2 linked regions of the Homo sapiens genome follow. The protein of the gene in region 1 purifies or fractionates together with the protein of each later gene. This does not show direct contact. Each region holds a gene or a part of one and is shown in the gene's direction. Other genes may lie near its edges.

Region 1 (3,756 bases):
CCTTTCAGCAGCATTAGCATTCAATGATCTTGTTAGAAAAGCAAATTTTAGTCCCTATTCCAGATCTACTAAATCAGAAATGCCGGGGGTGGGACACTGCAATCTGATTTTAGCAAGCTTTCTAAGGGATTCTGATGCAGCTAAAGTTTAGGAACCACTGTCTTAAAAATTAACTATGTGGTAGGAAATAATTGATTAATTGATTTCTTTTTCTTTCTTTTTTTTTTTTTTTTTTTTTTTTGAGAGGAAGTCTCACTCTTTTACCCCAGGCTGGAGTGCAATGGTACAATCTTGGCTCATTGCAACCTCTGCCTCCCAGGTTCAAGTGATTCTCCTGCCTTGGACCCCTGAGTAGCTGGGATTACAGGTGCCTGCCACCATGGCCGGCTAATTTTTGTATTTTTAGTAGAGACGGGGTTGTTTCACCATGTTGGCCAGTCTGATCTAGAACTCCTGACCTCAGGTGATCCACCCGCCTCAGCCTCCCAAAGTGCTGGAATTACAGGTGTGAGCCACCACACCTGGCCAATTGTTTTTCTTTATAGCATCAGCTTCTGAGTACTGGGCAAAACTTCCAGCTCTTTCTCACATATCCAAAATAATAGTTTTTGCAAGCATGCAATTTAGATCAGATATGAAATTTTCAGTTCCATAAACAGAATTAAAACATTGAACCTGAAATTTTGAAATCAGATGACTATAGAAAATTTATGAATCATACAAAGACTTGGCCGGGCATGGTGGCTCATGACTGTAATCCCAGCACTTTGGGAAGCCGAGGCGGGTGGATCATGAGGTCAGGAGTTTGAGACCAGCCTGACCAACATGGTGAAACTCTATCTCTTTTAAAAATACAAAAATTAGTCAGGCGTGGTGGCAGGCACCGGTAATCCCAGCTACTCAGGAGACTGAGGCAGGAGAATCACCTGAACCTGGAAGGCAGAGGTTGCAGTGAGCTGAGATGGTGCTACTGCACTCCAGCCTGGGTGACAGAGCCAGACTCCATCTCAAAAAAAAAAAAAAAAAAAAAAGACATATAGAATATTTCTCACATTTTTAGTGAATCCAGAATTTACTGATTATTTAAATAATTGCATATTATATTAATTGAAATAAAGTTATTTAATCTCCCTGGTTCTCATTGTTTTATCAGCAAAACAAAACTGATCTCAATGGAAACTTTTTCTCTAAAATCTTATGATTCAGGCATTCAACAATTTTATACTAAGGCATTAGAATACTTAATATTACATATAACATAGAATAGAGGAGATGATTACTATAACATTTAGCAATCCAAACACATATCCCCTATAAATAAAATATCTTAAAAACTGTGTTGTTTTCATGAAAGTCTAGTTAAGGTTACACAGCAGGTTTTACTTTTATGAGAAAAATTTAATAATACTTTTTGAGTTCATGTTCTTTGAGGGTGGCACTATTCAACCAAGCATACAAATGTTCTTGCTCTTGATAAGCCTCAGTGGTTAAAAGTACTTCCCAGGAGAATCCACAAATAAAAGGGATCTCTGTTTCCTTATTTCAAAACAACTGACTTGAAAAAGGAGGTCTGTTGCCCCCTTTTTTTAAGAAACTCTCTACCATGAAGATTCAACTTTTTTTCTTTATTCTGCACTTTTGGGTCACAATTTTACCAGGTAATATGCAAATATTTGTGGGGATTTATACTAACAAATTTGAGAAGACATAAGTTGTTTCTTGATAAAAAATATGATAATAACATAGGGATTAAAACATCATTTCACAAAAATGTAATGTGGTATTTTAGATTGGACTCCAGAACAGATAATAAAGACAATAGTGAAAAACAGACAAAAATAACAAGTATGAAAACTGGCAAAATCTGAATAGCTTAGTAAATACTATTACATCAACATTAATTCGTTAATCTTAATTAACATTACCAAGTTTATGCAATATATAACATAAGTGGAAGCTGGCTTCCACCAACTTTGCAACTCTTCTGTGAATCTAAAATAATATCATAACAAAAAGTGATGTGAGACAGAAATGGAGAGAGATTTTACTTTGTTGAAAGTAATGATCAGAGACTTCAGACAGATTGGACTTGAACAATGTATTTGAAGGCAGAAATAATAATTATTGAAATATCGAAGTATCACTAGACCAGTGGTTCTCAGAGAGGAGTGAATTTGTGCTCAAGGGAACATCAGGCAACGTCTAGAGACCTTTTAGCTCATCACAACTTGTACTACTGGCACAGTACCAGTTGTAGATAGAACCCAGGATGCTGCTAAATAACCTACAATGCATGGAACAGCCCCTTAGAGCAAAGAATTGTCCTATTCAAAAGATCAATATTGCTTAGAGTGAGACACCATGCCCTTGAGCTTGGCATCCAATTGACAGGGAGTATATTTAATTGATACTATTTGAATGAGGAGATGAATGCTTGCAAAGGAGATTAGCAATCCAAGGACACAAACTGGAGAACACATGTAGAGGTCAGAATGAGGAGAAAGAAGACAATAATGTTTTAGAAAGGTGAAATAAGACAAAGAATGAATAAGAGAAGGGGTGGGGTCAGTCCAAGGTGCATTCATGGACAACAGTGCCAAACATGACAGAACTTTTGCCAAAAGTGAGTATAATTCAGGTGTCTGTCACGGGTAATCACATATGGGTTTGATAATAATAACTCCTCAGAAAATGTAGAATAAGTAATGATCTTTAGAAGTGAATATTTAAATTGTGCAGATTAACTAGATGCTCTTCTATGCTTTTGTTTCTTTAAGTTGCTTCATACTCTGAATTGCTTTGGTTACATTGAGAAGAAAGCCAATATTAATAGTAGGACTTGGTTTTATAGCCATTATACCAATGACATAGATAATGTAGCTCTGAGTCTATGTATTAGCTAACAGGTATTACTACTCACCATCAGGTGTCAGCTGTTGGAACTGCAGACAGACTGCCTAGGCCAAAAGGCCTGGCCTTTGAGAAGACCAAGCAATAATTAATAGCAGGAAACAGTGGCATAATTTATTTGTTTTCATATGTGAAAATATTAAATCTGTCCTTTGGTCAAGAATTTGATGTGTATACAAAAAAAAAAGGCTACAAAACAAATGACTTCTGAAAACGAATCGGCCAGGGTACAATTTAAAATATAAAATAAAAAAATTTTGACTTGGTACAATTTAAAATATAAACTTAAAAAAATTGACTTGGAATAGATCACATAACCAATCAAACCAATGTCCTCAAACCCCCTAAATATATTCAATTCTAAATAAGAAACTTCTAGTGAGAGTCCATCTTTAAGCTAAAAAAAAAACATATCTTTTCTTACAGCTTTGACTATTACAAAGTTATTTTTGTATTGTGTCAAATTTTGTGTTTCTTATAATGTGCAAATTTTAGTTGCAGTTTTGCTCTCCTGGACATGTCTTCTTGTGACCCCAGCTACAAATCCCTCACCCATTCTTTCATGATTGATAAGAAAATATAAAGCCAGAGTAGGAGTTAACACACTTTTTCTAGAAATAAGTGAGACAACCAATATTGTAGGTTTTATGAACCCTATGATCTCAACTGCATTATTTTAATGCAAAAGCAGTTATAGACAATGTGTTAGCAAATGGGTGTGTCTGCGTGCCACTAAAATTACTTCCAAAAATAGGTGGCAGGGTGGATTTGGCTCCCTGACAATAGTTTATTGATTCCTAGTCAAAAGGTTTAATAGTACACACAGTAATTGACAGAAATTGTTTG
Region 2 (3,656 bases), on another chromosome or scaffold:
AATTTTCCCCATTTTGTCATAATTTTTCTTTATAATTTGATTATTTTGGAGGAGGATCCAAATAAAATCCAAGCATTATTATTGGTTGATATGCCCCACACTTAAAAACCTGGCTTTTAGCAACACCAGCAAAATTATTCATTATGCTAAAACATACATACCTTGCATACTCAATATACCTCCCCATTCCTAGGTAAGCTTTGAAATTCAACTTTTCTCTCCTAGCTCCATAGGTTGTTAAAGAAGCAGCTTATCTTCTTGGTTCTTTCTTTTAGAATTGACACATATCCCCAGGAGAAAAGTGGTTGCAAAAGTCAGAGTAACCTTTGTAGGTTTTCTCCTTTTAAAGATATAAGACTGCAAGCCAAGTGCTGTGGCTCACTTCTGTAATCCCAGCACTTTGGGAGGCCAGGGTTGAAGATCACTTGAGCCCAGGAGTTTGAATCCAGCCTGGGTAATATAGGGAGACCCCATCTCTACAAAAAATTTAAAAAATTAACCAGACGTGGTGGTGCATACTTTTAGTTCCAGCTGCTAGGGAGCCTGAGGTAGGAGGATCGCCTGAACCCAGCTGGGTGACAGGCTGGGTGACAGTGAGGCTGCGTGACAAAGTAAGATCCTGTCTCAAAAAAAAAAAAAAAAGATATCAGACTTGTAAATCTTCACTGTCTTTGCTCTCTGATGTCTTCAAGTAATGCTTTAAAATATTTTGTTCATCTTTTATAGTTATCTTCAGTAGGAGATATATCTGAATTATCTAATCTGTCATTATTAGAAGGGAAAGTCCCCTTACCACTTAAATTTTGAACATTTTGAACACTAAACTTACTATATGTTTAGATAACATGACTGCAATATTTGGCTTTATTTCAAAGGTTCTGAAGCAAAAACACCTGGATGATTGCCTGCGACATGTATCTGTAAGAAGATTTGAATCATTTAATCTGTTTTCAGTAACAGAAGGCAAAGAAAGGGAAACTGAAGAGGAGGTTGGTGCATGGGTCCAATATACAAGCATCTTCTGTCCTGAATACAGTATCTCCTTAAGGTAACCATTATTCTAGTTAAGATTTTGTAAACACTAGATTTCTCTTGGATAAGAAAAACAATCTAATAAGAATCATCATTATTTATTCTATTGAGTTTACGGGCAATCTTTTTCAGAACTTAGGTTTTACAACTTGTTTTAGGAAATCCTGCTATTTTAACTGGGTCTTGCTGTATTATCAGACTAAAGGAAACAAGTTCTCACAAATATAGTGGCATTTGAAGATAAGGTGGTTGCAAATCAAAGGGTTCATTTAAACATTCTGTCATAACATTTGTTTATGACAAAAAGCCATGTTTGTTCTGAGGCAAAGAAGGGGCTGAAAGTGAAAACAGAATTTTTCCAAACTACCCTTCAAGTAATAATCTGAAAAATCAAGCTTTGGTATTTTTTCCATTTATTTATTTTTTTATTACTTTCAGAATAGAATCAATCTTAAGACTAAAGGAGAAAATTCAACTGAAAACACTGATATTGTAAGAAGCATATGGACTGTTCTGACTTTAAAAATCATTAGAAAAGAGACAAGAGAGTTACAGACTGCAATAACAAGATACCATTTTACTGAATTAATTTTCTCTCACAGTTATGTTCTAGCATGTTGCAATATTACTGTAGGTGTTTGATTTTATAAAATCTGCCTTTTCTGACAGTATTTCACATTTTGAAAGGGAGGGAGGAGCACATTTACAGTAACTGTAAGAAGAGCAAAAAACATTTTAAGTGTAAATGTGACTGAATAAGGTTTAGGTGAGGCTAGGAATAATTTTAAGAAAAAAATTTTCACAAAGGGTATCTTTTTATAGTATATGTTTCTCGAGCTATTTTAGTTTAGAATATCTAAGCTTTAAAACATAATAGCTAAAAATTGGGATTTGGATAAAAATTGACTAGGTTGGGCAGGAAAGAACAATTAGAATCTGGTTTTATAATACTATTTTACTGAAAATGCCGGCTGGGCGCAGTGGCTCATGCCTGTAATCCTAGCACTTCAGGAGGCCAAGGTGGGTGGATCACTTGACCCTAGGAGTTCAAGACCAGCCTGGGCAACATGGCAAAACCCCACCTTTACAAAAAATACAAAAATTAATTGGGCATGGTGGCATGTGCCTATGGTCTTAGCTACTCCAGAGGCTGAGGTGGAAAGATTGATTGAGCCCGGGAGGTTGAGGCTGCTGTGAGCTGTGCCATTGCATTCTAGCCTGGATGACAGAGTAAGACTCTGCCTCAAAAAAAAAAAAAAAAAAAAAAAAAATCAAAGTAAAGAAAATGCCAAATAAAATATATAAACTTACAGATTTTGGGGTGTACCTGTACATTAATTATGAGATTCTCATTAGGATACCCCAACTGCTTTGCCTTTTGATGGAGATAATCAGTTTTGTCCTTGGTTAGAAAGGAAAGAAAGGTATATGCTTACTCTGTGTCAGGTACAGAGCTAGGTGTTTTGATGTATTCCATTTCAAGTGATCCTTACAATAACTTTGTGAAGCAGGAATGGAAATGATTAAACATTTAGAAGGAAATGAAAGACAAGAAAGGACAGAGTGATCCAGTAGGGGTCTTTAGGTATAAAGTTCTAAAACTTATCTTCTGCATCCACTGGTGAAAAGAGACAATAAGTATAAATTATAGCAAGAATAATTTCCTGACATCTTCAAGGCCCTGGTAAGGGTTAGCCAGTGAGAATGTGAAATAGTCTCTTCTTGAGATCTTTCAAAGCAAGTCATGGTTATCCACTTGTAGAGATGATCCTCATGTAGTACTATCCAGAGCCCAAGCTATAGAGTAAACTGGGACTCCTTTCCAACAGCATTGTTCTTTGTGATATATCTTCTTGTGATATATGAAAGAATAAATGTATATCTATACAAATATGACATTGAGTTGGAAAAAAGACACGTGACTGAGCTAAAGTGTTGGCTTCATTGGCTGCCAAGATTTTTTTTTTCAAACTAGTTAGTATCTGTCCACATTAGTGCAAAAATAACAGTACTTTGGGAGGCCGAAGCAAGACGATCACTTGAGGCCAGGAGTTCAAGACTAGCCTTGGCAACATAGGGAAACCCTGTCTCTACAAAAAATTTTAAAAATTAGCCAGGGGTGGTGGTATGTGCTTGTAGTCCCAGGCACTCAGGAGGCTGAGGCAGGAGAATCCTTACAGCCCAGGATTTCAAGGCTGCAGTGAGCCATAATCATGCCACTGCACTCCAGTTTGGGCGATAGAGTGAGACCCCTTTAGGGATTACAGGCTTGAGCCACCATGCCTGGCCAGGGTTTCTGTTTTTTTTTTGTTTTGTTTTTTAATATTACTTGGAATAGCCCAAAGCAGTGGTTTAGAAGTAGTTTTGCAATGAAGTGGAGTACTCTCATCTTCCTCTATATTTTTTAAGTTTGTTTAATCAGCAGTAATGATGATTGAAAAAAAAGGGATGAATAGTGTTAAATTCAAACCAATAAATATTTAATAGCACCTTCTATATATATATAAAAAAACAGAAATAAATATAAATATACAATACTATGCTTAAGGAGCTGAAATAGATAAAAGTTAAATAATAAAAATAATTAAATAAGGAAAGTTAACTATTCAGTGTAAGAACTCTCA

Evidence for each region. The genes of interacting proteins can lie anywhere in the genome.
Region 2: the proteins of DEFB110 (region 1) and CAMKMT purify together in Homo sapiens (affinity purification with mass spectrometry; one large-scale study listed by BioGRID and IntAct). This does not show direct contact.

What each region holds. Positions count from the first base shown.
Region 1 is NC_000006.12:50,019,783-50,023,538, reverse strand, and holds the start of DEFB110 (beta-defensin 110 isoform a precursor), read left to right. Parts: upstream 1-1,544; 5' UTR 1,545-1,603; coding exon 1,604-1,658; intron 1,659-3,756.
Region 2 is NC_000002.12:44,371,841-44,375,496, forward strand, and holds part of CAMKMT (calmodulin-lysine N-methyltransferase), read left to right. Parts: intron 1-875; coding exon 876-1,048; intron 1,049-3,656.